4 linked regions of the Homo sapiens genome follow. The protein of the gene in region 2 purifies or fractionates together with the protein of the main gene of each other region. This does not show direct contact. Each region holds a gene or a part of one and is shown on either strand. Other genes may lie near its edges. The genes, in order: MCCC1, ECH1, MCCC2 and EIF2B3.

Region 1 (7,022 bases), on a different chromosome or scaffold from region 2:
TTAATAAATTACAGCTCTGCAGTGACCCACTTCCACCTGAAACCCCTGAAACACTGCATGGGCAGTGGGTAATCGTCCCTCTCTGACATAGTTTTGAAAACTGTTTTTCTTATTTAAAAGTAATACATTCTCGCTGCAGAAAAATTGCAAAGCAAAAAAAAAAGTACAAAGAATTGGGGAAAAAGAGGTTTTTTTGGGCATATTTCTAACATTCTGGCATATTTCATTTCAGCTGTTTTGCTATGTTTATTTTATGACATATTTTTAGAATATTTACAAAATTTTTAAAAAGTGTAAAGAAGAAAAGCAAATACCATCAACTCTACTACCCAGAGCCAATCAATTCTATTATATTGGCATATTTCCCTCCAATGTTTAGCCTAGGCATTTAAAAAATGTAACTGACTGATCATGGCCAGGCTGGAATCCTCTTTTTCAGATTAATGTGATACATTTCTATGACTCACATTTCTCTTTTAATGAAACATTACTTACTGTTTTTACCATCTTTAAGAGTCATGTTTCTGGTATACGAGATATTCAGTCTTCTTCCACTGCTAGACGAAAATGGAGAGAATTGATCTAGAAAAAATTTAAAATTCAGTAACAAACTTATGAGTATCAAGCCTATGAAATTTACACCTTACAAAAGAAAACATAAAATGCAAGTGCTGGCCGGGCACAGTGGCTCATGCCTGTAATCCCAGCACTTTGGGAGGCCAAGGCGGGCGGATCATGAGGTCAGGAGATCGAGACCATCCTAGCTAACACGGTGAAACCCCGTCTCTACTAAAAATACAAAAAAATTAGCTGGGCATGGTGACGGGCGCCTCTAGTCCCAGCTACTCTGGAGGCTGAGGCAGGAGAATGGCGTGAATCCGGGAGGTGGAGCTTGCAGTGAGCCAAGATTGCGCCACTGCACCGGATCCAGCCTGGGCGACAGAGCAAGACTCCGTCTCAAAAAAAAAAAAAAACAAAAAAACACACGTCCTAAACTGGCAGCTCAGATGTGCTTTTTTTGTTCTTCTTGTTAAGTTTAAAGGGCTGGTTTTGTTTACATCTTATGAAATTTCATGTGAAAAATTCTAGCTTCTATTGAAGAATCTGAATATTTGCAATCTAAACTCTAATCCCATAGTGGCATAAACTGTACCACAGTCACCACCTTTTGATGGGGCAAATTCATTCCAGGTCACCAGTCTCTACTATTCACTATTTTTCTTTCACCTGGCCTCTTTTACTCTTTTATGTTTTTATGTTGTTGGCCCAGCCCTTATAGGCCTTTTTTTTTTTTCTTTTTTGAGACGAGTCTCGTTCTGTCGCCCAGGATGGAGTGCAGTGGCATGATCTTGGCTCACTGCAACCTCCACCTCCTGGGTTCAAGTGATTCTCCTGCCTCAGCCTCCAGAGTAGCTGGGATTACAGGTGGGTGCCACCACAGCTGGCTAACTTTTCTATTTTTAGTGGAGATGGGGTTTCACCATGTTGGCCAGGCTGGTCTCAAACTCCTGACCTTAAGTGATCCACCCGCCCTGGGCCTCTCAAAGTGTTGGGATTACAGGCATGAGCCACCGCGCCTGGCCCCTTATAGGCATTTGGGTGTATATCCTCTATTGGACAATATCCAGGAGCTTCAGCATAGCTAAGCTGATGCAATTTATTCTGAACCTCATATCTGTACCAATTATAAACTTTCAAAAGGAAGGTCACAGTAAGACAACGTTCCATTCTAAAAACGTTAAGGTCAGGCTCAGGAATACCACATGGGACGTATTTAGATGCATTTTCATTCAATGTAAAAGGATAAAATGAGGATAGAGCACAAATCTTCTAAAGATGCAGTTTTCGGGACTTAAAACATTTTACATTTTAAGCTTTCCATACAGCTATCTTGAATGAATCTAAATGAATTCAGAAATTAAAGATTCTAATGATAGGATCCTATAATAATACGGGTTCAGTATCACTTACCCAAAATGCTTGGGACCAGAAGTGTTTTGAATTTCAGATTTTTTTTTTTTTTTTTGGATTTTGGATTATTTGCATTATATTTAACTGGCTTAGCATCCCTGATCCAAGTATCTGGAATCTGAACTGTTCCAATGAGCATTTCCTTTGAGCATCATGTTAGTGCTGAAAAAGCTTCCGATTCTGGAGCATTTTGGATTTGGGGATTTGGGATGCTCAAACTGTATAGGGTAATATAATAATTACCAATAAAAGAGAAAAATAGATCAGATTTTTAAAAATTCTGTTTGCTCCGAAAGTCAGAGCTAGCCTGAAATGCAAAAAGTATGTGAGAGCTGAGATTTTGTATCAATTTAAAGGGCAGAACTTTTTTTTTTTAATACTTTAAGTTCTAGGGTACATGTGCACAAGGTGCAGGTTTGTTACATATGTATACATGTGTCATGTTGGTGTGCTGCACCTATTAACTCGTCATTTACATTAGGTATATCTCCTAATGCTATCCCTCCCCCCTCCCCCCACCCCACGACAGGCCCCGGTGTGTGATGTTCCCCACCCTGTGTCCAAGTGATCTCATTGTTCAATTCCCACCTATGAGTGAGAACATGCGGTGTTTGGTTTAAAGGCAGAACTTTCTAATGGAGAACTGACTGAAACTGTAAGCTACCTGATGAGGTAATGAACTTCCAGTTTCCCAAGGTGTTAGGAAGAAGTTGGGCAACAGCTTAGTGGGTGTGCTGGGGTAGGGATGCAATGCATATGTGTGGTAGCCAGGATGAACCCCACTATGGCCCTTCCTATGCTTGGATTCTATGACACTATGAAGTCTCTAGGTAGACATTCAATCACAGGATGGAAAAAGCGGAAGTAATTCGACAATAAGTCATGGGTAACCCTGGGGAATCTAAGTCTCCAGTCTTAGATTGTCTTGAGACTCTGGGACAAAGGGAGTTGCTGCAGGTACAGAGGACAAAACAAAGTAGGGCTATGAGGAGTGGCGAACAAAAGAAGTGATAAGAAATTAGTGTAGGATGTGGGGAGAACAAGTGTTTGACTGAAAAGAGATCCATTTCCTTTTTTTTTTTTTTTTTTTTTAGATGAACTCTCGCCCTGTTGTCCAGGCTGGAGTGCAGTGGCGCGATCTCGGTTCACTGCAACCTCCGCCTCCCGGGTTCAAGCGATTCTCTTGTCTCAGCCTCCCGAGTAGCTGGGACTACAGGTGCGTGCCACCACACCCAGCTTATTTTTTGTATTTTTAGTAGAGACAGGGTTTCACCATGTTAGCCAGGATGGTCTTGATCTCCTGACATCATGATCCGCCCACCCTGGCCTTCTAAAGTGCTGGGATCACAGGCACGTGCCACCACGCCCAGCTAATTTTTTGTATTTTTAGTAGAGATGGGGTTTCACCGTGTTAGCCAGGATGGTCTTGATCTCCTGACCTCATGATCCAGCCGCCCTGGCCTCCCAAAGTGCTGGGATTACAGACGTGAGCCACCGCGCCTGGCCAAAGAGATCCATTTCTACAATGTTAGGTGATTAGTTACACTCCAGTTAATGGGTTAAATAGTGTTTATGGGTGCATCCATGGTAAGTGAAGAGCTTTCCTTCATACTAAAAAACACATCTGAAAAGAATGGTGTCAGTCACTGAGAGGAGAAAAGAGAGGTCAGTGTGCCATACAGAAAGAAAAGCATGTTCAATGATGATTTGCAAAACTTGACAAGCAGAGGAAAGAGAAAAGCCTTCCATACCATGTGCCTGAAGAGTGAAAGTGTCGGTCATGGCTTTCTCCTTGAGGATGAGACCCAGGGCTGCCTGGCATAAAGACTCTTTGGCTGCAGCCTTCCGACTGAGCAACAACTGTTTGTGGTGTTGAGGGATGAAATCAGTGTGCACGTTCCCAGCTTCAAACTCTGGGTGGCCAGACAGGTTGAGTAAGAAGTCAATGTTGGTGTGCAGTCCAACAATCTAGGAAGAGAATAAACCCCCAGTTCCTGCTGAGTGGGGAAAACAATATGTTCAGAAAACCATCTGCTCTTTTTATCTAAGTATTTTCTACTGTGAACAACTCTTAGGAAAAATAAAAAACCTACTAAGGTACCATGTGGCAACAGGACAATTCTCAGGAAAAAAAACACAAAAAAACCATCTCACTATCACTATGTCCATCCGCTATTACTATATCCATCTGGACTTGACACTAAAAATTACATTTTAATATGACAAAGAGGATGCTGGAAATACCGAGGCACTTACTTGACTCAGGTTAGGAACATAATAAATGTTAAGAAACATAAATGAAATTCATTTGCAAGGTATCGAAGACTTGCTGCTCAGAACACTTCCACAGAATAGGAAGACTGCAAACAGCAAGCTGGATTGCTATACTGGGGAGAGGATAGGATTAAATGCCCTCAAAAGAGCTTCTTTCCAACAATAAAATCCAAATTTTATATACCGATACAAAAATTTTAAAAGGTATAAAATTAACCCAAATACACCAATAAATGGGATCAAAAGTAAAACCAGCTATCTGAGCTTTGGGTTCATTCATTCACTCATCCATTCCTTCATTCATTTAACAGCCATTTCCTGAGCATCTCTTAAGTGCCAGGCTCTGATCCAGGCACTGGGGACATAGTGAGGAACAAAACATATGATGTCCCTGCCTTCACAGTCTCTGCTTACATTCTAGGGCAACAAGTAACAATATCTGTAAACAGGTATTGAATATAATGTTACATGCTATGAAGAAAATGAAGGCTGGCTAAGAGGATAAAGAATAACAAAAGGTCATACTTTAAATGGGGCAGCCTGGGAAAGGGCTCAGAGCAGGAGAGCAGGGTAGTCAGGAGGGAGCCCTGCAATCATGTGGGGGAAGAACATTCTGGAAGATTGGACAGGAATGCATGGCTCCATGCTGAGTGAGTCTCAGAAGCGGTGAGGCGGCCAGTGTGGTTGGAGCCACAGAGACCAGAGCTTTGATCAATTATTAACAATAACAAGTTGAATAACTGGGTTAATAAATCCTTCTATGAGCCAAATCAATGTGGTATGGGACTTTCTGCACCAAGGAAATTAATGTTCTACAGAAAAATAACAAACTCTATTAAAGGGATGAAACTGAACATAATTATTTTACTTTAGAGAAAAACTACTGGACTGCAGGCATACTGGGTAGCGAAAACAACATTCAGGAAAACATCTGCTTTTATTTCCTAAGTATTTTCTACTGTGGACAGCTCTTAGGAAAAATAAAAAACCTACGAAGGTACCATGTATAGCTGGCCTTATCTACAGAGTGAATAGGATTTCACCGAAGCATAGCACTGACACTAACAATTTTACTTCTGCAATCTTTCTTTTGTAACTGAAATGAAGAAGTCCTCAAACCCTGTTCTGGCCCACGCAAAATTCTCCCATGTGAAACTATTTTGTTTGGGCAATTGATGGAAATAGAAAATATGCTGACGAGACCAAGGCCCTGCCAAAGACAAAGGCTGACCTCTGGTGCTGACCAAACACATCAAGGTCACTGGCACGGTCTCAGATCACTCACATTGTACTGACGAAGGCTGTACCTCAGTTTTGTCAATGCCGCCTGGCGATCTGCTGCCCACACGACCAGCTTCGCAATCATGGGGTCATAATGCACGGAAACTTCGTCTCCTGAAATTGAAAACCACGGTAACCTCTTCAAGTCAAAACACGAAGGAATAAAATACAACGAGCAAGACATTTTGTTATGTACATTTCACGCTTAATCCTCATAAACCCCTGCATGATAAATAACAACACAAATTTATTCATGAGGACCCTGAGGTTCAGAGGGCTTTGAAAACTCACCAGGTGTAACGAGGTGGGCCACCCAACAGCACCAGGCCCTAACGTGGTGATTCAATGGCACACAAGCTGGCTTTCCCTGTCCTATCTTCTTCTGAATCTTCTTTTCCCTTCTCATTTTCAAAGTCAACACAATCTCCCTCCACCCTCTCACATTCCCCTCATTTCTGCCCTTAGCATTCCCCTCCCCTCCACTCTTTCAGTTTCCGTACTAGTCAAGCAAGTTTAATAATTCCTCTGTCCTGCAGGGTTGCTGGGAGGAGTGACAATAAAGTGACAAGTGCCATACCTGGCAAAACTGATAAACCAATGGCAGCTATCATCACTGGGATGGTTACAGTCCTAGAGAACAAGAATCTGAACCAGGGCACATTCCACTGGTTAGAAATGGTTCAAGTAGAAAGGATGTGGTGTGTTGAAAAGAACGTTGTTGCAGGGTCTTTCCAGGATTTTGGCAGGTCACTTGACCTCTTTGAACCCCAGAGTCCTCGTTGATAAGATTAGAGGTGCCTACAGGTGGCTCACGCCTGTACTCCCAAGACTTTGGGAGGCCGAGGTGGGCAGATCACAAAGTCAGGAGTTCAAGACCAGCCTGGCCAACATAGTGAAACCCTGTCTCTACTAAAAATACAAAAAATTAGCCGGGCGTGGTGGCGGGTGCCTGTAATTCCAGCTACTCAGGAGGCTGAGGAAGGAGAATCATTTGAACCTGGGAAGTGGAGGTTGCAGTGAGCCAAAATCGTGCCATTGCACTCCAGCCTGGGCAACAAGAGTGAAACTCCATCTCAGAAAAAAAAAAAAAAAAAAAAAAAAAAAAAGGAAGGAACCGGTGGGGCAAGCAGAGTTAAGATGCTTTGCTAAGTTAAAAAGTCTACTAACTACCAAATCTTGCTGTGGCTTATCCAGAGCTCTCAAAATGCTGCCAATTTATTTTTAAGAAGATCTAAATCCTCATTTTGGCTTTTAGGACACTAGGATTTGCCTTCAACCCATGTCTCCAGTCATATATTTTCTTACTATTCTTCAAACATACCTTTTTCTCTTTTCTTCACTCTTCATTATGCTGTTTAAATCTACCTATCTAAATCCATTCCAGACATCCTCTTAAAAACTTGTCCTGGCCAGGCACGGTGGCTCACCCCTGTAATCCCAGCACCTTGAAAGGCCAAGGTGGGCAGATCACTTGAGGCCAGGAGTTTGAGACCAGC
Region 2 (7,590 bases):
GATGTCTGCTTTTCTCCCTCTCTGTCCTGAAGACACAGGCAGGCCTGAGCACAGTCACAGGCCCTCTGGAGGCATACAGAGACCCAAGAGGAGCAGGGTGGGCTGCAGACTGAGAATGGTGCTAGCAATTGAGTCTTTGAGGAAAATCCATCAGGCTTAGTGGCATTCTTACTGGGCCCTGCCCGAGCAAGCTCTATCAGGCCCAGTGGGTCATCACACCTATAATTCCAGCAATCTGGGGAGGCCAAGGTGGGGCACATACTTTGAGCTCAGGAGTTGAAGACCAGCCTGGGCAGCATGGTGAAACGTCACTACAAAAAGGTGGGTTTGGTGGAACACCTGTAGTCCCAGCTACTCGGGAGGCTGAGGCAGGTGGGTCAGTTGAGCCTAGGAGGTTAACAGTGCAGTGATCACATCACTGCACTCCAACCTGGGTGACAATGAGACCCTATCTCAAAAAAAAAAAGGTTTCCAGCCTTGCCATCATGGTGAAACCCTGTCTCTACTAAAAATACAAAAATCAGCCGGGCATAGTGGCGCATGCCAGTAGTCCCAGCTACCTAGCAGGCTGAGGTGGATCACCCCAACCCTGGAGGGTGATGCTGCAGTGAACTGTGATGGGGTCATTGCACCCCAGCCTGGGCAACAGGGTGTCAAAAAAACCCAAAACCTTTGTGTTCTGTATCATTTCAGAGTGACTTGTCTTTACCCTTGCAGTATCATTGTGTGGATGTGTCATGATTTAACCTGGTCCCAAAGGGTAGTTTCCAGGTCTATTTTTGCTATTGCAAACAGCGCTGTAACACGTATCTACACAAGTATCTTGGCCAGCTTCCCTGATACTGATCAGGAGATAAATTCCTGCCAGTGGAATTGCTGGGTTAAAGGATATATATAGCTGGATGTAGTGGCCCATGCCTGTAATCCCAGCACTTTGGGAAGCCAAGGCAGGCAGATCACTTAAGGCCGGGAGTTTTGAGACCTGGGCAACATGGCAAAACCCTGTCTACAAAAAATAAGAAAGTGGGCCGGGCATGGTGGCTCACGCCTGTAATCCCAGCACTTTGGGAGGCCGAGGTGAGCGGAACACTTACGGTCAGGAGTTCGAGACCAGCCTGGCCAACATGGTGAAACCCTGTCTCTACTAAAAAAATAAAAATTAGCCGGGCATGGTGGCACGTTCCTGTAGTCACAGCTACTCAGGAGGCTGAGGCAGGAGAATCGCTGGAACCCAGGAGGCAGAGGTTGCAGTGAGCCGAGATTGTGCCATTGCACTCCAGCCTGAGTGACGAGAGTGAAACTCCGTCTCGAGAAAAAAATATATAGAAAAATGATGTGGGCATGGTGGCACACACTGTGCCTATAGTCCCAGCTACTCATGGGGGCTGAAGCAGGAGGATCACTTGAGCTGTGAGCTGTGATGGCACCACTATACTCCATCCTGGGCGAAAGGGCGAGACCATGTCTCAAAACTTAAAGGATCTATATAATTGCATCATACGGTAGATAGCTTCCCACTTGCAGATGCAAATCTGTGAAGATGCCTTGCGGTGGCGGGTACCACCCGGAAGGATCCTGGTTTAAGGATTTTGACTCCTACTGGAGGGAAGAGGTGACCTGCAGAGGAGCAGGTCACAAACCTTGAAGTTTATGCATGTGTGCTTGAGAATAGCCCACTCTGGGGAATTTACTGTGAATAAAATTTTCTTTTTTGAGATGGAGTCTTGCTCTGTCACCCAGGCTGGAGTGCAATGGCATAATCTTGGCTCACTGCAACCTCTGCCTCCTGGTTCAAGCAATTCTCCTGCCTCAGCCTCCCAAGTAGCTGGGATTACAGGCATGTGCCACCATGCCTGGCTGATTTTTGTATTTTTAGTAGAGATGGGGTTTCACCATATTGGCTAGGCTGGTCTCGAACTCCTGAGATCCACTGGCCTCGGCCTCCCAAAGTAGCTATGATACAGGCATGAGCCACTGCGCCCGGCCTTACATTTTTAACATTTAATGACATCACAAAAGCATCATTTGGCAGATGAACAAGTTTTGCTTCACTATGGGAAGTTTCAAACAATCTTTAGACAAGGAAAAACTACAGTCATCTTGCAGCCATAAATAAAATCAACTAGGGTTTATTGTTTTTAAGCCAGTCAAGGTGATAAAAAGTGAATTTTACCAGTTTGTCTCCTAGCATCCAATTTCATTTCCTGTTACCAGTTTGAGTCTCCTTCCAGAGATATTACATACATACACCATATTCTGTGCAGGTCCAGCTACACTCTTTTTTTTGAGACATTGTCTCACTCTGTCACCCAGGCTGAAGTGCTGGAGTGCAGTGGCATGAGGTCAGCTCACTGCAAACTCTGCCTCCTGGGTTGAAGCAATTCTCCTGCCTCAGCCTCCCAAGTAGCTGGGATTACAGGCACCTGCCACCACGCCCCGCTAATTTTTTTTTTTTTTTAGACAGAGTCTTGCTCTGTGGCCCAGGCTGGAGTGCAGTGGCGTGATCTCACATCAGTGCAAGCTCCGCCTCCTGGGTTCACGCCATTCTCCTGCCTCAGCCTCCCGAATAGCTGGGACTACAGGCGCCCGCCACCACGCCCGGCTAATTTTTGGTATTTTTAGTAGAGATGGGGTTTCACCGTGTTAGCCAGGATGGTCTCGATCTTCTCACCTTGTGATCCACCCGCCTTGGCCTCCCAAAGTGCTGGGATTAGAGGCATGAGCCAACACGCCTGGCTAATTTTTATATTTTTAATAGAGATTGGGTTTCACCATGTTGGCCATGCTGGTCTCAAACTCCTGACCTGAGGTGATCTGCCTGCCTGGGCCTCCTAAAGTGCTGGGATTACAGACCTGAGCCACCGCACCCAGCCCAGCTATACTTTCTTACACCAAAGGAACAAAGGATCATACTAAATGTTCTATTACATCTTCACATTTTTTTCTCACACATTTTTATTTTTGCATAGAGGTTTCAGAGTTTTCTATGGTATAAACAGTCTACTGTTGATGGGTAGTTAATGGTTCTGTCTTTCAAAAGAGCCTGCTTTTCTAGTCTGTGAAAACACACAGGAGACAGGTTCATTAAGGAAAGATACTTCCTTCAATCTCACTGGCCCAGAGACATCTGTTCACCGCCTTGCTCAATGTCTCCCCAAAAAGCATACTTAAGCAGTTTTACAGTACTTTTTTTTTTTATTTTTTTGAGATGGAGTTTCGCTCTGTCCCCAGGCTGGAGTGCAGTGGCGCCATCTCGGCTCCCTGCGAGCTCCGCCTCCGGGGTTCACGCCATTCTCCAGCCTCAGCCTCCCCAGTAGCTGGGGCTACAGACGCCCGCCACCATGCCCGCTAAGTTTTTGTATTTTTTTAGTAGGGACGGGGTTTCACTGTGTTAGCTAGGTCAGGAGGTCGATCTCCTGACCTCGTGATCTGCCCGCCACGGCCTCCCAAAGTGCTGGGATTACAGGCGTGAGCCACCGCGCCCGGCCAGCAGTTTTACAGTACTTTTTATGCCTTTTGGTAGCTGGCTTTTCCCAAGGGAATTTCGGTTTTTTTGTTTTGTTTGTTTTTTTTAAGAACATGAACTTTTTTTTCTTCTTTTTTTTTTTTTTGAGATCTTGCTCTGTCGCCCAGGCTGGGGTACAGTGGTGCCATCTCTGCTCATTGCAACCTCCGCCTCCTGGGCTCAAGCCATTCTCTTCCCGCTAGGATTACAGGTGCCGGACACCGCACCCGGCTAATTTTTGTATTTTTAGTAGAGACGGGGTTTCGCCATGTTGACCAGGCTGCTGTTGAACTCCTGACCTCAGGTGATCCGCCTGCCTCGGCCTCCCAAAGTGCTTGTATTACAGGCGTGAGCCACTGCGCCAGGCTAAGAACATGAACTCTGGTGCCAGGTAATCCTGCTTTAGCCCTTCTGAAGCCCACCGACCTTGAACCTAGTGTCTTCCCGTGCCTGGGCCAGTTTCCTCTGCATATAGTAGGAAATAGTACGACCTCCTGGTGGGAGTTCATATTATACAGTCAGCGCTTAATGTTGGCCCGTCTGTACTCATTCCTTTACCTGAGTAAACTCACAGTACTGCAAGTTTTCTTTTATTTTTAGTTAACATGATATATACATGCATGATTACAAGCTCTGCTGCAATTATGTCCTTGGACATTTCAGCTGTCGCCTATTATTCCACCATTATGAAACAGCTGTGTGATGAACTTTAGCGGGAGCTGTTTGCTTTTCTGTTTTTTTTTTTGTTTGTTTGTTTTGTTTTTTTTAAGACGGAGTGTCGCTCGGTCGCCAGGCTGGAGAGCAATGGCGCGATCTCGGCTCACTGCAAACTCCGCCTCCCAGGTTCACGCCATTGCAGGAGCTATTTTCTTTGGCCAGGTTCCCACTGGGGCAAAGGGTCCATTTCTGAGCCTGGCTCTATGTAAGGCAACCGGAAATCGACTGCCCTTAGTAAAGATGGCGGAAAGAACGGCGTCATTGCCTGTCAGGTTGCGGCATCGGTGCCCTCGCTCAACATGGCGGCCTTCTGTGCCCGCCCCCTCCGCTAACGGGCACGTTACTCCGTCCGAACGCAGTAGACGAAGGCGGCGGCGATGGCGGCGGGGATAGTGGCTTCTCGCAGACTCCGCGACCTACTGACCCGGCGTGAGTCACCTCTTGCCTTATGGGGGTGCGTCGCGCTGTCGTGCTGTTATAGCAGATGTAGGACGGGGAGGGCTATCCGGGGTCACGAAGGGCCCGAGTCCCCTAAATTCAGGGGTGCGTGTGCTCCCTTTTGAAGGACTCCCTAATTCGATAGGCCTGTGTCTTGCAGTCTGGGGTCATCAAAGGCTGTTCCTTTCTCCCCAGGACTGACAGGCTCCAACTACCCGGGACTCAGTATTAGCCTTCGCCTCACTGGCTCCTCTGCACAAGAGGAGGCTTCCGGAGTAGCCCTCGGTGAAGCCCCAGACCACAGCTATGAGTCCCTTCGTGTGACGTCTGCGCAGAAACATGTTCTGCATGTCCAGCTCAACCGGCCCAACAAGAGGAATGCCATGAACAAGGTCTTCTGGAGGTCTGACCTGCAGATCCTGGAGGCCTGCCTGCGGGGGGAGGCGGGGCTGCGGGACTGGGTGAAAGTGGAACGTTGTGGGAAGATGGACATGAGGGCAGGGTATTCCCGCCCCATTTGTAACCCTTCACTCGTTGCTTCACAGAGAGATGGTAGAGTGCTTCAACAAGATTTCGAGAGACGCTGACTGTCGGGCGGTGGTGATCTCTGGTGCAGGAAAAATGTTCACTGCAGGTACCAGACGCTCTTCACACACCCTGCCAGCCTTCCTAGCTCCTGGCAATAGACAGTGGAGCAGTGCTTCTGAATTAGGGTTTTAAGCAGCTTCTGACTTACACACTTTTTTTTTTTTTTTTTGAGACGGGGTCTTGCTCTGTTGCCACGCTGGAGTGCAGTAGCGCAATCTCAGCTCACTGCAACCTCCACCTCCCGGGTTCAAGCAATTCTTCTGTCTGGGACTACAGGCGTGGGCCACCACACCCAGCTAATTTTTGTATTTTTAGTAGAGACGGGGTTTCACCATATTGGCCAGGATGGTCTCCATCTCCTGACGTTATGATCTGCCTGCCTCAGCCTCCCAAAGTGCTGGGATTATAGGCCTGAACCATTGCTCCTGGCCCCTAACTCACACTTTTATCTGTGTGTTTTTTTTTTTTTTTTTGGAGACAATATCTTTCTCTGTCACCCAGGCTGGAGTACAGTTGCCTAATCATAAATCACTGTAACCTCAAATACCTGAGGTCAAGCGATTCTCCCACCTCAGCCTGCCAAAATGCTGGGATTACAGGCAGGTGCCACCATGGCCAGCCCTATCATTTTTTTAAAAAAAGGCCTACTTTAAAACATTCAAATATAAGTATTAGTCTGACAGAACACGATGGGATCATAGGCTCTGAAGTCTAGGTTTCCATCCTGGATCTGTGGCCATGAACAACATGCTTAACCTCTCAGCCTATAGCTGTGTCAGCATATAATATAATAACATGCTTTCGTGCAACTATTCAACTCACTAATTGATTTCCAGTTACAGGTCAGTTGGATCTTTGGATTGACCCACTGACCTTTTCTTCAGATTGGAGAATTTCCACTGGTCACAGTTACTAACTGTTTAGTCATCTCTATCCTTCTGTAAAGCCCATCCAGTGATTTATTTTGTTTTATTTTGTTTCAGACGGAGTTTTGCTTTTGTTGCAATGGTGCAATCTCAACTCACTGCAACCTCTGCTTCCTGGGTTCAAGTGATTCTCCTGCCACAGCCACCCAAGTAGCTGGGGTTACAAGTGCCCGCCACCACGCCCGGCTAATTTTTTGTGTTTCTAGTAGAGACGGAGTTTTACCATGTTGGCCAGGCTGGTCTTAAACTCCTGACCTCAGGTCATCCACCCACCTAGGGCCTCCCAAAGTGCTAGGATGATAGGCGTGAGCCACCGTGCCCAGCTACTACCCACTGATTTTAAATTTCAGATATTGTAGTTTTCTTTCTTTTTTTTTTTTTTCTGAGACAGAGTCGCTCTGTCACCCAGGCTGGAGTGCAGTGGTGCGATCTCGGCTCGCTGCAAGCTCTGCCTCCCGGGTTCAGGCCATTCTTCTGCCTCAGCCTCCCGAGTACTGGGACCACCAGTGCCTGCCACCACACCCAGCTAAGTTTTTGTGTTTTTAGTAGAAACGGGGTTTCACCGTGTTAGCCAGGATGGTCTCGATCTCCTGACCTCGTGATCTGCCCGCCTCGGCCTCCAAAAGTGCTGAGATTACAGGCGTGAGCTACCACGCCCAGCCCAGATATTGTAGTTTTCAATTCTCCAATTTCCATTTGGTTCATATTTTATTTTATTTTATTTATTCATTTATTTTGAGACAGAGTCTCGCTTTGTCACCCAGGCTGGAGTATAGTGATGCAATTTTGGCTCATTGCAACATCTGCCTCCTGGGTTGAAGCAATTCTCCTGCCTCAGCCTCCTGCATAGCTGGGATTACAGATGCCCGCCACCAGGCCTAGCTAATTTTTTTTTTTTTTTTTTTTTTTTTTGGAGAAGGAGTCTCACTCTGTTGACCAGGCTGGAGTACAGTGGTGCAGTCTGGGCTCACTGCAACCTCCACCTCCCAGATTCAAGCCATTCTCCTGCCTGAGCCTCCTGAGTACTTGTGATTACAGGCACCCGGCACCACGCCTGGCTAATTTTTATATTTTTAGTAGAGACGGGGTCTCACCATTTTGGCCAGGCGGGTCTTGAACTCCTGGCCTCCAGTGATCGGCCCCCCTCGGCCTCCCAAAGTGCTGGGATTACAGGCGTGAGCCACTGTGCCTGGTCAGTTGTATATTTTTTGTCATGCATGTTTTTCTTCCTGCCATTGAGCATAGTTATAATGACTGATTTAAAATCCTTGTCTTCTGGCCAGGTGTGGTGGCTCACGCCTGTAATCCCAGCACTTTGGGAGGTCGAGGCAGGCGGATCACGAGGTCAGGAGATCGAGACCATCCTGGCTAACATGGTGAAACCCCATCTCTACTAAAAATAAAAAAAAAGAATAT
Region 3 (7,022 bases), on a different chromosome or scaffold from region 2:
CAGGCATGATAATTTATTACCTCATTAAGTGGTGTAAGAAAAAAACCGAGCCAACAGCGGCAATGGTCTGTGAGGTAATTATTTGGCGCCGACACACAGACCCTGGCAGTGACTAATCACCTTTCAAACGTACAAGCATACTTGTCAACAAATGCCAGTAAGTGTTCAACCAATCTCATGTTTAAAATGGGGTAAAAACAAAATGATCAAGGAGAGGGGTTTTTAAGCAAAAATTAGAACTTCTGAAGTAACACAGCCAAGCTTATAACTTATTCTCGGCTCCTAACATGGCCCACCTTGGGCTGCAGGACCCCTCCAGGCCCCAGACACCTCAACTAGGGGGAAGACAAGGGAAGCGAGAATCAGACCACTGGTGGTGAGTCCACAGTGCAGGGATGCTGGGAGGAGGGGTGGCATTTCAGCAGTAGCCATTCAGATTGTAAAGAAACAACAGTACAAAATTAAGTGTGTCCAAATGTTATTTTCCAGTTCCTATGAATGCTGGACCATCTCAACTACACAGAGCTCTGTAAAGCTGTTCCTCTGACTGCCATCTGCACCCATCAGAGAGTTAGTGATGTTCTGGCCCCCACCTTGCGCTGGAATAGTAAGGGTTTCCTTCCTCTTCAAACTTCTTAATGATGGGCTCTTTTAAAGCCGCTTCATCAGCACTGGAGAACTAAAGGAAAAGAGGCCATGAGTAAGTCAGCTTCAGTGAACAACTGGCCCTGTTTAGATCATCTCAATTCAAAAGAAACAACAGATGTCATGAATAATAATGTTACATCTAACATGTGCATAGTGATGTATAAATTACAAGTGATCATTAACATACACGCTAAGACATGAGTATCAAGTTAGTGCCCCATCCCATCTCTCCTAACAGAGACAATATCCTGAGGCTATTTCACGTAAGGTGAAAGCCCAGGGTACTGTGTATCACAGCAAGGTACAATAATAGATGTGAATTATACAACCCAACAAAAGGGCTGCATTACACTTAGCAACCTCCAGTTAAGAATGTGGAAAAGTATGAGATTCTCATTTAAAATAGCCAAAATTTAAAACTTAAGCTTAAATGTTTAAGCTTAAAGGGGTAAAATACCAACCAAATCTTGAATAACCTTTTCAGTCAAGTTCCCAGAGAACTGAGAGATATTTTCCCCTAATTAAGAATTTCACAGCCTTCCCATCAGTATTACAAGGATCAAGTGATAATTAATTCAGATGTAAAAATCTTCAGAACTTAATTTGAAACCCTGAAAAATACTTTCAACTCAAAAAGCAACTCGACAGCAGAAACAAAGACTTATTTCAAATAAACTCTACCTTCTTTTACGTAAATATGCTAATACCTTAATATCATTTTCTAGGTCACGAATTCTGAGGGAGAACCATTAACACACTGTGCTTTCCTTTCCTGTATAAAAATGAATGAATTCAAGTATCTGTATATTGAAGTAATCAAAGAACAACTACTTAATAAGAGATCACCATGCTAGGCTTCATAGAGTTTCAGACATGTCTTTGAAGTATCAGGTAGAATTTCATATCTCACCTCCCCCACCCACACACCCACACCCCAACCACTCGCACAAAAGCAAAGCTATCTGTTTCCTTTGATACTAGTAGGTACTAAAGTGAATCTGAAACCTCAATGTAAGTCTCCAGAGTTCCGAGTGCTTGGAAAAGACAACTAGGGATGTGAGGCATGGATGGATGCATTCAGGGAGGCAGTACCTCACTCCACAATCTAGGTGGAAGACCTGATGATTCCTGCACAGAGCAGACAGGGCTCCCTCCATTCCATCCCTTCCCATAATGAGACAACAGTGTACCTAAGCAACTTCAGGAACACACAACCATCATCTTCATACTTGGTGCTTACACAGGAGTTAAAAGTTGTAACTAATAAAAATTAATGCAAAATTTCAAACAATCTCCAACAGAGACACAAACAAAAGAATTCATTTTAAAAGCAGCCGCTTGCTGATCTGCCTTTCATCAAGTTTCCACTGCCCTTTCCATTTTTCTTCATTTATACACAGGATAATGTTATTCAATTCTCAATAGATGACGGAGCCCTCCCACTCAGGGTATCCTTAACAACAATCTAAAAGTAAAATAGAAAGAACAAAATTCTGCTGCTTTTGGTCATAAAATCAAAGTAGTACATCAGACTTATTTAAATCTCACTAAGTACAAATGACTAAGAATCAAACATCTTTATGCCTCAGATACTTACTGTCAGTTTCTAAAGTGTTTTCTTGGCTGGGCATGGTGGCACACACCTGTAATCCCAGCACTTTGGGAGGTGGGCAGATCACTTGAGGTCAGGAGTTTGAGAGCAGCCTGGCCAACATAGTGAAACCCTGTCTCTACTAAAAATACAAAAATTAGGCCGGGCGCGGTGGCTCAAGCCTATAATCCCAGCACTTTGGGAGGCCAAGGCGAGTGGATCACAAGGGCAGGAGATCGAGACCATCCTGGCTAACACAGTGAAACCCCATCTCTACTAAAAATACAAAAAAATTAGCCAGGCATGGTAATGGGCACCTGTAGTCCCAGCTACTCGGGAGGCTGAGGCAGAAGAATGGCGTGAACCTGGGAGGCGGAGCTTGCAGTGAGCCGAGATCGTGCCACTGCACACCAGCCTGGGCGACAAAGCGAGACTCTGTCTCAAAAATAAATAAATAAATAAATAAAAATACAAAAATTAGCCTGGCGTGGTGGCACACACCTGTAATCCCAGCTTCTCAGGAAGCTGAGGCATGAGAATTGCTTGAACCCAGGAGGTGGAGGCTGCAGTGAACCGAGATTGCGGCACTCCACTCCAGCCTGGGTGACAGAGCGAGACTCTGTCTCAAAAATTTTAAAAATAAATAAAAATAAAATAAAAAAGTGTTTTCTTGGAAATTCTGAAACAATTTTAAATGGCCACAAAGAAAGTACCCCAAATGAAATGGCTTTAAAAAGATAAAGGACAGAAATCATGTGATTTGCTGGAACAACTTCCAGGGCAGCACAGTCTAAATATGGCCAGGCAGTGTGCGCCAGGTCCCCAGCCATGAACACCAAGGGCTTCCAGGCACGCTGCTCCTTGGCTCCAGGGTGTTTATGGTGAGAGGCAAAACCAGAGAGAAACAAGAGAAAACGACACCGACCTGCTTTCCTTCCCGGGCTCTTTGGTCCTTTGTTATCGTGGCCAACACATTGGCTGCCTGCTCTCCTCCCATCACTGAGATACGAGCATTTGGCCAAATGTAGAGAAATCTTGGGCTGGGGGAAGAAAAGGAAGAATAAACAAATTAAGTCAATATACAACATAGATTTTCAGAGGCCCATGTTTGCCTTTTAAATTAGTGGTTCCTGATTCTGGCTGCACATTACAATCATCTGTAGAGCTTTCACAAATATACAAATGCCTGGAACACACCCCAGACTAGACTCCAGAGGAGGGTCCTGAGCACAGATGGGACTTCTAAGTTCTCCATGTAATTCTGGGTATAAAAGCGTTCATAATATCCTCTCATGATCTACAGTCATGTCCTTTTTTCCATTCCTGATAGTGGTTATATGTGCTGTCTCTCTTTATTTTTTAGTTTAAGCATAAGATTATCAAGTTTGTTGAACTTTCAAACCAAACAACTTTGGGCTATACTGATTCTTCTATCTGATGTCTGCTCTTCATTATGTCCTTTCTATTTGTCACGGGTTTAACGTGCTGTTCTTTGAACTTCCCACAGATGAAGGCTTAGCTCACTGACTTGCAGTCTTGCTTCTTTTCCCGTATATGCCTTTAAGGCTACATACCTTTCTCAGAGCCAGACTTTAGCTGCACTGCACAAATCTTAATGTGTGGCATTTTCATTATCAGCCATTTCAAGTATTTCTTGACTCCCATTGTAGATTTCTTCCAAATAACACCTTTGGCATTAAATTTCATTTCACCCCTCCAAATGATACAAATTACGGTATAATTGATTGAGATCTGGGAATGGCATTCTATATTTCAAATACACCTGAAATAAACTGACCATGTATTTTATACTTGAAGCATGTTTCTTTGTTTCAGAGAAAATCATGACACCTACCTATATGCTCTGCCACACATCCCATAGTTTCCGGCTCCATAGGAGCCCCCAATGATGAGGGTTATCTTAGGCACTTGGGCACAGGCCACAGCGGCCACCATCTTGGCACCATCCTTGGCAATTCCTTCAGCTTCATACTCTCTACCAACCATAAATCCTGAGAGAAAGATCAGAAAGAGAGCCTCTGGGTGATGGGATTAATATGCGGAACGCAATTCCACCAAAAGGACATCTTGTTTTACTAAACTCATCTTACTAAATGCCTCTCGCCTTAAGAAAATGTTTATATGTGAAACATACCGTTAAAAAGTTTGCTTTAAAAGGATAAAATAAAATTTTCTCTAATCACTTTCTAAATTTTCTTAAAGCAGTTCATCTGGATGCACACAGAAACCTTCAAACAATATGAGGATGCAATCTATCTTCAAGAGATGATCTTGGCTGGGTGCAGTGACTCACCCCCATAATACCAACAATTTGGGAAGCCTAAGCGGGAGGATCAGTTGAGGCCAGGTGTTTGAGACCAGCCTGGGCAACAAAGCGAGACCCTACCTCTATTTAAAAATAAATAAATAAAAATTTTAAAAAGGAGATGATGTCAAAGAAGCAGCTTGATGCTGAAAAGAATGTGACATGGCTAGTTAAGGACAAAGTGCTGTGATGAGCCTAACTATGAGGGCTTTAGCTTTCACTGACCTGGTTTTAAAACAGACTGTTCTTTCTAAAGTGATGCTTTGAAACTTTGAAGACATAAAGATGAATGTTTCATAGAGATGCTAACAGTCCCTGCCAGTGACTCAATAGCAAGGTTAAAAAAAAACTATTTTTCCATTTCAATAGAGGATCCTTCTATTTCTTCAAGCCCCTAGCTCTGTGGAGGCTGCTCTGCAACTTCACTGCCTTCCAGAACTTGGGTTCCTCTTTCTCTGCCTTATAACACTGAGTTGGGCTTCGCTTGTCTCCTTACCCCGCAAGTCTCCAGCAAAGGCATTTCTTCCATCTGTGGGCCTGCAGACTCACCTGCCTCATTGACTGCCACTATCCCTGGTTTGCCAAACTCCAGTATCTGGTCATCCAATTCAACCCAACCAGTTCCTCCAGAGCACGTGTGCCTTCTGCAGTCACCACAGGAATGGCAGCACAGCCCTTTACTTGGCACCATCTGCTTCCTGCAGCTATCCTACTCAGCTGGACCCTCAGAAAAGCTCAGAAACTCCTCAATCTCCCCAGCCTTGACTCCATTGTAACATTCCCACCATACCTACTTCAAATATCAGCTGTCTTCAAGTTCTCACCCCACCCAACCCGACCCACCATCCCTCTATTCTCTGGAGGGGATCCTGCCTTCAAAAAGAAGAGTGAGGCATCTCACTTCGCTTTCTCAAATCCTTCTTCTTCCAATCTTAAGAAAACTGCATAATCATGCTCCCCATCTTCCTTTACTCTTGAAGAAAAAGGAAAAAATCAGAGGTACTCGAAGACTGTCACTGAACCTTCTTCTCTTCTCTCAGGGGGGTTCTTATCTATTCCCACAGCTTTAAAATTACCTCCATATTCTGATGATGTCTACATTTGCATCTCTACCTAAAACACCTCTCCTGTGCTGAGACTTATTCACCTGCCCACTATATGCCTCCAGGTGAATATCCCACAGGAACCTCAAATGCAATGCTGAAAAACTAAACTCAACCCAACAGGGCCAAAACAAAACAAAACAAAAATGTAGATATCTTCAAACCACAGAGTTTTAACTGCCTGGTGGTTAACAATCCAGGAATCATTATTAAAAACAAGAACTCTGGTATAGTTAGGCTTCAGAATCCTTTCTATCTGCCCTTTTACATAAGTTACCATGCAGGACCCTCTTAGGCTGCCATTTGGATATAACTTCTCTCAACATTCATCTAACCAAATATCATGAACCTAAGTAGCTCACAGGATGAAGATGCTTTAGCACCAGTACTATTTCAAGCCCTGTTGACTGCCAAGAGCCTGACTCTTCCTTCTCAAAGAGGCTTGCATGATCCCAACAAGTACTAAGAGCCTCTCCTTCCTTTGAAGCTGAGGTAGCCTGGGATGGGGGAGGCTGTTTTCTGCTAACCAACATATCTGAGTGCCCTGTATATCTCAGACACTCTGCAACATATAATGAAGGATACCAGAGAATCAGAGAATTCACTCTTCAACCGTAACAGACCTTAAAAATCAATTTATCCACCATGTTAAGGTCATCTCTGGAGTAAAGTCCAGAGAGGTGACATATCTCACTTTGGTCATACCATTCTTTGGGGCCAAAACTCAAATCCCCAGACTTTGGTTCAGGGTATACACATACATTTTAAAATGATGTTACTTAAGTTGAATTAACTGTACAATAAAAGGGAAGACCGTAGCACGTGCCTGAAATCTTGAGGAGGAAAAGGGTCCTAGGAAAAGCATGATGCTCTCTGCAGTGATCAGATCATGCTCCTGCTGCTTTCTGGGTGTGTGGCTGTGCACACACAGGAGTAAAGGGTGGCCATGTGAATGCTGATCAGGTACATAACTCAGAAATAGCTTCACTTAGAAAATATGGATAATCAGCAAGGTGTGGTGGCTCGTGGCTCATGTCTGTAGTATCAGCACTTTGGGAGAACAAGGCGGGCAGATTGCTTGAGCTCAGGAGTTTGAGGCCAGTCTGGGCAACATGGTCTGGGTGAAACTACGTCTTACAAAAATACAAAAATTAACCAGGCATGGTGGCACATGCCTGTAGGCCCAGCTACTTGGGGGAAAGAAAATATGGATAATCTCCTCAGAATATTTAACATGCATGAAGAAAAGTGCTAACTCTTAAAGGGCCTCCAGAAAGAGCATGTCCAGTAGAACTTCCTGCTCTGATGAAGTGGTCTACATGTGTGCTGTCCAATACATGAGCCACACTGATGG
Region 4 (7,535 bases), on a different chromosome or scaffold from region 2:
GACGTGGTGGCTCACGCCTGTAATCCCAGCACTTTGGGAGGCCCAGGCGGGCGGATCACCTGAGGTCAGGAGTTCAAGAGCAGCCTGGCCAACTTGGTGAAACTCTGTCTCTACTAAAAAAAAATTTTTTTTTTTGAAACAGAGTTCTTGTTCCCCAGGTTGAGTGCAATGGCATGATCTTGGCTCACTGCAACCTCTGCCTCCCAGGTTCAAGCGATTCTCCTGCCTCAGCCTCCCAAGTTGCTGGGATTACAGGCATCCGCCACCATACTTGGCTAATTCTTTGGATTTTTAGTAGAGACAGGGTTTCACCATGTTGGCCAGGCTGGTCTTGAACTCCTAACCTTAGGTGATCCACCTGCCTTGGCCTCCTAAAGTGCTGGGATTTCAGGCATGAGCCACTGCGCCCGGCCTCTACCAAAAACATTTTTAAAAGTAGCCAGGCATGGTGTCAGGCACCCGTAATCCCAGCTACTCAGGTGGCTGAGGCAGGAGAATCACAGGAACCCGGGAGGCAGCAGCTGCAGTGAGCTGAGAGCACACCACTCGCACTTCAGCCTGGGCGACAGAGTGAGACTCCGTCTCAAAAAAAATAAAATAAAATAAAAAAGAGCCAAAAGAGCGCCAGGCACAGTGGCTCATGCTCCCAGCACTTTGGGAGGCCAAGATGAGAGGATCACTTGAGCCTAGGAATTCTAGAACAGCCTGGGCAACATGGTGAGACCCCATCTCTATAAAAAATTAGCCAGGTATGGTGGCGCATGCCTGTAGTCCCAGATACTCGGGAGGCTGAGGTGGGAGAATCACCTGAGCCTGGGAGGTTAAGGCTGCACACCACTGCACTCCAGCCTGGGCAACAGAGTGAGACCCTGTCCCAAAAAAAAAAAGTCAAAAGATGAGTTTGAGTCATGATTCTGACACTCATAGGTGTGATCAGGGGCCTGACATTTAAAACTCTCAGTGTCCTCAGCTTCTAGAAGGAAGCCTGGTGGTTAGGTTCACAGACCATAGAGCTAGAATGCCTAGGTTTGAATTCTAGCTCTACTATTTATTATTAGCTGTGTGAACTAGGGCAAACTACGTAAATTTTCTATGCCTCAATTTTTGCATTTTATGATGGGGATAATTATAGTTTCACTTCACAGAGTTGTTGTTAAGATTAAATTTGTTATTCTACGTAAAGCAGACAAAATAATGTCCATCTTTTTTTTTTTTTTTTTTTTGAGACGGAGTCTCGCTCTGTCGCCCAGGCCGGACTGCGGACTGCAGTGGCGCAATCTCGGCTCACTGCAAGCTCCGCTTCCCGGGTTCACGCCATTCTCCTGCCTCAGCCTCCCGAGTAGCTGGGACTACAGGCACCCGCCACCGCGCCCGGCTAATTTTTTGTATTTTTAGTAGAGACGGGGTTTCACCTTGTTAGCCAGGATGGTCTCGATCTCCTGACCTCATGATCCACCCGCCTCGGCCTCCCAAAGTGCTGGGATTACAGGCGTGAGCCACCGCGCCCGGCCAATAATGTCCATCTTATGAGAAGCACTATATTTGTATTTGCTTTACTAGACAGAGACTAGATTATGGAAAACCTTCGTACTAATTGAGCCATGCTGCTTCATAATTCTGGTCTCTGCACTGCTACTGTTGCTTCCTAGTCTGCCTTTCTCTTGTGTCTAGTAATCACCTATTAAACTTTGAAGACAGCTCAAGAATCCTCTTGCCTACAAAGCCATTCCTAACCGTTCCCACCCCTCCAGAAGTGACTCCTTTTCCCGAAGTGCTTCCATTCTGCCATGTGCAGATTCTCTTAGCCTTTACGGGTTTCATTGCACGTATGTGTTTAAATGTCTACTTAAGTGTAACATTAATGTCTCTTAAATGTCTACATAAGAGTGTAAGAGTGACTTTCTTGGACTGTGTGTGCATCATCACTGTATTCCCAGTCAGATGCCAGAAATCAAAGTGGAATGAGGACCTGTGAACTTCACAACTGTATAAGAGTCAAACTCAAACATGTGCATAAGGGCATTAGAACCCAGGTCACTAGGAACTGAGGTTCCAGCTCTCAAGGAGGCCCTGGGTGAAGAAAGGCAACCTAGGAAGCATGAATAGTAATCATGAACATAACTAATCATGCTACCAGGCAGACTGTCAAATGCTCATGTCACTGCCACGACTATGGCTGACGGGAATCATGGCAACGAGTCTCGCTGCCTCCCAAGCTTTGGAGAGGGTGTTCACCGCATCTCAGACTTGCCTGCATCATAGCACTCATGCCTTTTCCAGTTGTAAATAGATAAGAAAACTGTATCAGAATTGGTCTGTCATTCCACGTGTGCTGCCTGAAGGCAGAGACCTCACTGCTCCTCCCTATATTTCACTGCCCTGCATCCAAACAACTAAAGGCAGGCTGAACAAATGAATGAAGGGCTGAGGCTGAAAGAGTGCAGGCACAGTGCTAAAGGCGTCTGGTACCGGTCTGGTGCTCGCTCACTCGCTGTGACTTTAAGCAGAACCCTCCCCGAAACTTCGTTTCTTTCTTTTCTTTTCTTTTTTTTTTTTTTTTTGAAACGGAGAGTCTCACTATGTTGCCCAGGCTGGAGTGCAGTGGCGCGAATTAGGCTCACTGCAACCTCCACCTCCTGGGTTCAAACGATTCTCCTGCCTCAGACTCTCGAGTAGCTGAGATTAGAAACTTAGTTCCTCCATCTGTTGCATAAGGTGGTTGGCTCGGATTCTCATCCCCAACCTCCCTTCTACTTCGGACACAGCTACACCGGGTCGAGCAGGGAGTCGAGCTGACAACTTCGGGGCTCAGCACCCTCTCCTACCCCTTCGGGTCCACCTCGGCCCAGTTCGACATGCCCGCCTCCCTCAGATGAGTGGCCCCACCGCACTGCTCACCCGGGTCAGCCAGCTTGTGTGCGGCCTGGCAGGGCAGAAGTCACAGCTATAACTCAGCTCCCGGCACGCCGCAACCGCTCCCAGCGATCTCCACGCCGCCTCTGACTGACAGCCCAATGGCGCAGGCGCGCGATGGCCGAGAAACTCGATGGAACGCGCAGAGCAGACCCATGGAGAAGAGAAGACCGCCGAGCGATGGATGACGGAGGGGAAGCACACTCAGCGGAGAGGAGGGAAGGCGGGCCGGAGGGGGCGGGGCCACCGAGGAGCATTCGACACGTGTGTCCCTCTGTCCATTAACACATTACCAACGCCTTTTGAGTATTCCTCCCAGTGCAGGGTGCCGGGAACCCAGACGGAACAACTCAGCCTCTTTCCTCAGGGAGTAAGTCTAAGACCTGGCTTCGAGTACATTCGGTGAAAGAAAGCTCATTGGGAGCCGCAATTTTGGCTAGCTAGTGAAAAAAATCACCGAATGCCCCTGCAGGGGTTGCCAGGACTTCCTATTTGTTTTTGTTGTTGTTGTTGTTGTTGTTTGTTTTTTGTTTTTTTTGAGACGGAGTCTCGCTCTGCGTCGCCCAGGCTGGAGTGCAGTGGCGCGATCTCGGCTCACTGCAAGCTCGGCCTCCCGGGTTCACGCCATTTTCCTCCCTCAGCCTCCCGAGGAGCTGGGACTACAGGCGCCTGCCACCATGCCCGGCTAATTTTTTTGTATTTTTAGTAGAGACGGGGGTTTCACTGTGTTAGCCAGGATGGTCTCGATCTCCTGACCTCGTGATCCGCCCGCCTCGGCCTCCCAAAGTGCTGGGATTACAGGCGTGAGCCACCGCGCCCGGCCCGGGACTTCCTATTTGTAACAGGGCCACTCACGTTAACTTTAGCCATCAAAACTGGGGGCGGCTGGGCATGGTGGCTCATGCCTGTAATCTCCGCAATTTGGGAAGCCGAGGTGGGAGGATTGCTTGAAACCGGGCGTTCAAGACCAGCCTGTGCGAGAGAGCCTCCAGTCTCTACAAAAGTAAAAATTAGCTGGGCATGGTAGTGTGTGCCTGTAGTCCCAGCTGCTCAGGAGGCTGAAACGGGAGGATCGCTTGAGCCCAGGAGTTCGAGGCTGCAGTGAGCTATGATCGGGCCACTGCACTCCTCCTGCCTAGACGACAGAGTGAGACCCTGTTTTTTTTTTTTAATTTAGTTTTTATTTCATAATCATAAACTTAACTCAGCAATCCAGTTAGGCATGGAAAGGAACAAGGAAAACATGGAACCCAAAGGGAACTGCAGCAAGAGCACAAAGATAAGATACTGCGAGCAGGCCGGGCGTGGTGGCTCACGTCTGTAATCCTAGCACTTTGGGAGGCCGAGGCAGGCAGATTGCCTGAGCTCAGGAGTTCAAGATCAGCCTGGGCAACATGGTGAAACCCCGTCTCTACTAAAATACAAAAAAAAAAAAAAAAAGAAAGAAAGAAAGAAAGAAAAAATTAGCCAGGCATGGCGGCGTGCGCCTGTAGTCCCAGCTACTCGGGAGGCTGAGGAAAGAGAATTGCTTGAACCCGGGAAGTGGAGGTTGCAGTGAGCCGAGATCGTGCCACTGCACTTCAGCCTGGGAGAGGGCGACAGGGTGAGACAGCGTCTCAAAAAAAAAAAAAAAAAAAAATACTGCAAGCAAATGGGGTGAAGGGGTGCTCTTCTGAGCTACAAAAGGAATGGTCTGGTGGTTAAGATAAAACAAAAGCCAAACTTGTTAGAGTTGTCCACAGTCAGCAATGGTGATCTTCTTGCTGGTCTTGCCATTCTCGGACCCAAAGTGCCCCATGGCCTCCACAATATTCATGCCTTCTTTCACCTTGCCAAAGACCACAGGATTGCCATCCAGCCACTCAGTCTTGGCAGTGCAGATGAAACACTGGGAACCATTTGTGTTGGGTCCAGCATTTGCCATGGACAAGATGCCAGGATGTGTATGCTTTAGGACGAAGCTCTCGTCATCAAATTTCTCCCCGCAGGTGTACTTGCCACCAGTGCCATTATGGCATGTGAAGTCACCACCCTGACACATAAACCCTGGAATAATTCTGTGAAAGCAGGAACCTTTATAACCAAATCCTTTCTCTACATTGCTCAGAGCACGAAAGTTTTCTGCTGCCTTTGGAACCTTGTCTGCAAACGGCTCGAAGGACACGCGGCCCAAGGGCTTGCCGTCGACAGCGATGTCGAACACGGTGGGGTTAACCATGGCTGATCGTACAGAGCTCCTGGCGTCGGTGGCTGCATTTGCAAAGCCGAGACCCTGCTTTTAACAAAACAATAATAGGCCAGGTGCGGTGGCTCACGCTTGTAATCCCAGAAGTTTAGGAAGTGAGGCGGATGGATCCCTTGGGCCCAGGAGTTCGAGACTAGCCTGGGCAACGTAGTGAAACACCCTCTCTACTAAAAATACAAAAATTAGTCAGGTGTGGTGCCGCGCTGTGGGGTTCCAGCTACTTGGAAGGCTGAGGCAGGAGGATCGCTGGAGCCCAAGAGGCAGAGGTGGCAGTGAGCCAATATGGTATCACTGCACTTCAGCCTGGGTAACAAAGAGACAGGATCTCTAAGTAAATAAAATAAATATTAAAAAATGACGAATAGATAATAAAATAATTGTTGTTCTAAGCTCTACGGTTTGGAGTGGTTTATCAAGTTGCACTAGATAACAGGACCAATGGCCATTCTCTTTTTCCCATGCATTCCTGCAATTTCCTAATCTTTTGAAAGCTTCCTTTTTTTTCGATTAATTAATTTTTTTTTTTTTTTGAGACAGTCTCACTCTGTCACCAGGCTGGAGTTCAGTGGCACAATCTTGGCTCACTGCAACCTCTGCCTCCTGGGTTCAAGTGATTCCTGCGTCAGCCTCCCGAGTAGCTGGGACTACAGGCATGCGCCACCACGCCTGGCTAATTTTTGTATTTTTAGTAGACAAGGGGTTTCATCAGATAGGCCAGGATGGTCTTGAACTCCTGACCTCGTGATCTGTTCGCCTCGACCTCCCAAAGTGCTGGGACACAGCCGTGAGCCACCGTGCCCAGCCTGATTCATCTCTTAAATCTTGAGTTGCTTTAGCTTCCTGCCAGTTAAAAGGTAGAGCATGATTTCTGTAATAAAAATAAAGGAGCTTGACTTCATTCAACAATATTTATTCATTTATTTTTAGAAATGAGGTCAGCTTATGCTGCCCAGGCTGGACTCAAACTCCTGGGCTCAACGATCGTCTTGCCTCAGCTTCCCAAGTAGCTAGGACTACAGGTATGTGCCATGGAGGACTGGCTTCAACAATATCTTGAGTGCCTAATATGTGCCAAGCAGTGTCTTAGATGCTTGGTGTTGCAGATACAGCAGTTAATGATTAGGACTTGTCATTTTTTCCAGAAGGAGGTCTGCTTAGACCCTGAAAAAAAAAGGGGGGGACTCATATCCTAAAACCAGCCTATCTTTGCCTTGCCATGAACTGACTGATCTGGCCACAGGAGGCCTGAAGTCTGACTACCCCTCTATAGAAACACAGAGATATTCTCTCTTTGGTATTACCTCAACCAAGACTTGGAAATTACAGCATGGGTTTGAGGTAAGAACTAATTATAAGTAAGAAGAGCAGTCAGCCCCATATCTGCCATCCATTTCAAATCCTTATGTTTAAACTAGCAAATGTTTTTCAACGAACTAGAGGGTTTTCTCTTCTATTGTGGAAAGTAGTTGAGAGATTGCTTCAGTTTAAACTCACTTTAAATTATTCCCTGAGGGCAACAATTCTCAAACTTTTTCATCTCTAGACTCTTCATACTTAAAAATTACTGAGGACCCCAGAAAGCTTTTGTTTATATGGATTATATTTATCAATATTTACCATATCGAAAAAAAATTATTTTTTTGACACGGAGTTTTGCTCTTGTTGCCCAGGCTGGAGTGCAATGGCACGATCTCAGCTCACTGCAACCTCTGCCTCCCGGGTTCAAGCGATTCTCCTGCCTCAGCCTCCCAAGTAGCTGGAATTTACAGGCATGCGCCACCACACCCAGCTGATTTTGTATTTATAGTAGAGACGGGGTTTCTCCATGTTGGTCAGGCTAGTCTCAAACTCCTGACCTCAGGTGATCCGCCCGCCTTGACCTCCCAAAGTGCTGGGATTACAGGCATGAGCCATTGTGCCTGGCCAACTACATTTTCAAAACAAAAAGTTTAGTGAGATGAATGCCATTGTTTCACCTTTTTGAATAGTCTCTTTAGGGTCTGGCTTAATAGAAAACAGCTTGATTTTTCCATTATTGTAATATATTATTTTGGTTTAATTATATCATAAAAATGTGACTTCACATAGATACATAGTTGGTAAGAGATAGAGCTTTTAATAGCCTTTTCAGATAATTATAGGTATTCTTTGACACTATACCAAAATTCAATAAGTGGTAGTTTGTTAAAGGTTTGTTGCAATGTAGAATCGGAAATTATATCAATGAACATTTTGTACCTTGTTACAGTACTTGCACTTTGAATGGACATTTTACCCATGCATGACCTTGCAACTTGGTATACAAATAATATGTAAAATATTCGTTCACAGAGTTATGCAGATCTTCCTAACATTGACTCATTATACAATATTTTAA

The links.
Region 1: the proteins of ECH1 (region 2) and MCCC1 purify together in Homo sapiens (affinity purification with mass spectrometry; 3 studies listed by BioGRID and IntAct, with this or other methods). This does not show direct contact.
Region 3: the proteins of ECH1 (region 2) and MCCC2 purify together in Homo sapiens (affinity purification with mass spectrometry; 4 studies listed by BioGRID and IntAct, with this or other methods). This does not show direct contact.
Region 4: the proteins of ECH1 (region 2) and EIF2B3 purify together in Homo sapiens (affinity purification with mass spectrometry; 3 studies listed by BioGRID and IntAct, with this or other methods). This does not show direct contact.

What each region holds. Positions count from the first base shown.
Region 1 is NC_000003.12:183,033,496-183,040,517, forward strand, and holds part of MCCC1 (methylcrotonoyl-CoA carboxylase subunit alpha, mitochondrial isoform 1 precursor), read right to left. Parts: intron 5,641-7,022; coding exon 5,531-5,640; intron 3,940-5,530; coding exon 3,723-3,939; intron 583-3,722; coding exon 496-582; intron 490-495; exon of another isoform or gene 1-489.
Region 2 is NC_000019.10:38,828,782-38,836,371, reverse strand, and holds the start of ECH1 (delta(3,5)-Delta(2,4)-dienoyl-CoA isomerase, mitochondrial precursor), read left to right. Parts: upstream 1-4,577; 5' UTR 4,578-4,599; coding exon 4,600-4,651; exon of another isoform or gene 4,652-4,676; intron 4,677-4,855; coding exon 4,856-5,063; intron 5,064-5,205; coding exon 5,206-5,294; intron 5,295-7,590. UniProt on the Homo sapiens protein: Isomerization of 3-trans,5-cis-dienoyl-CoA to 2-trans,4-trans-dienoyl-CoA.
Region 3 is NC_000005.10:71,646,326-71,653,347, reverse strand, and holds part of MCCC2 (methylcrotonoyl-CoA carboxylase beta chain, mitochondrial isoform 1 precursor), read right to left. Parts: intron 4,252-7,022; coding exon 4,095-4,251; intron 3,280-4,094; coding exon 3,165-3,279; intron 680-3,164; coding exon 594-679; intron 1-593. UniProt on the Homo sapiens protein: Carboxyltransferase subunit of the 3-methylcrotonyl-CoA carboxylase, an enzyme that catalyzes the conversion of 3-methylcrotonyl-CoA to 3-methylglutaconyl-CoA, a critical step for leucine and isovaleric acid catabolism.
Region 4 is NC_000001.11:44,983,595-44,991,129, forward strand, and holds the start of EIF2B3 (translation initiation factor eIF2B subunit gamma), read right to left. Parts: upstream 3,002-7,535; 5' UTR 2,899-3,001; intron 1-2,898. UniProt on the Homo sapiens protein: Acts as a component of the translation initiation factor 2B (eIF2B) complex, which catalyzes the exchange of GDP for GTP on the eukaryotic initiation factor 2 (eIF2) complex gamma subunit.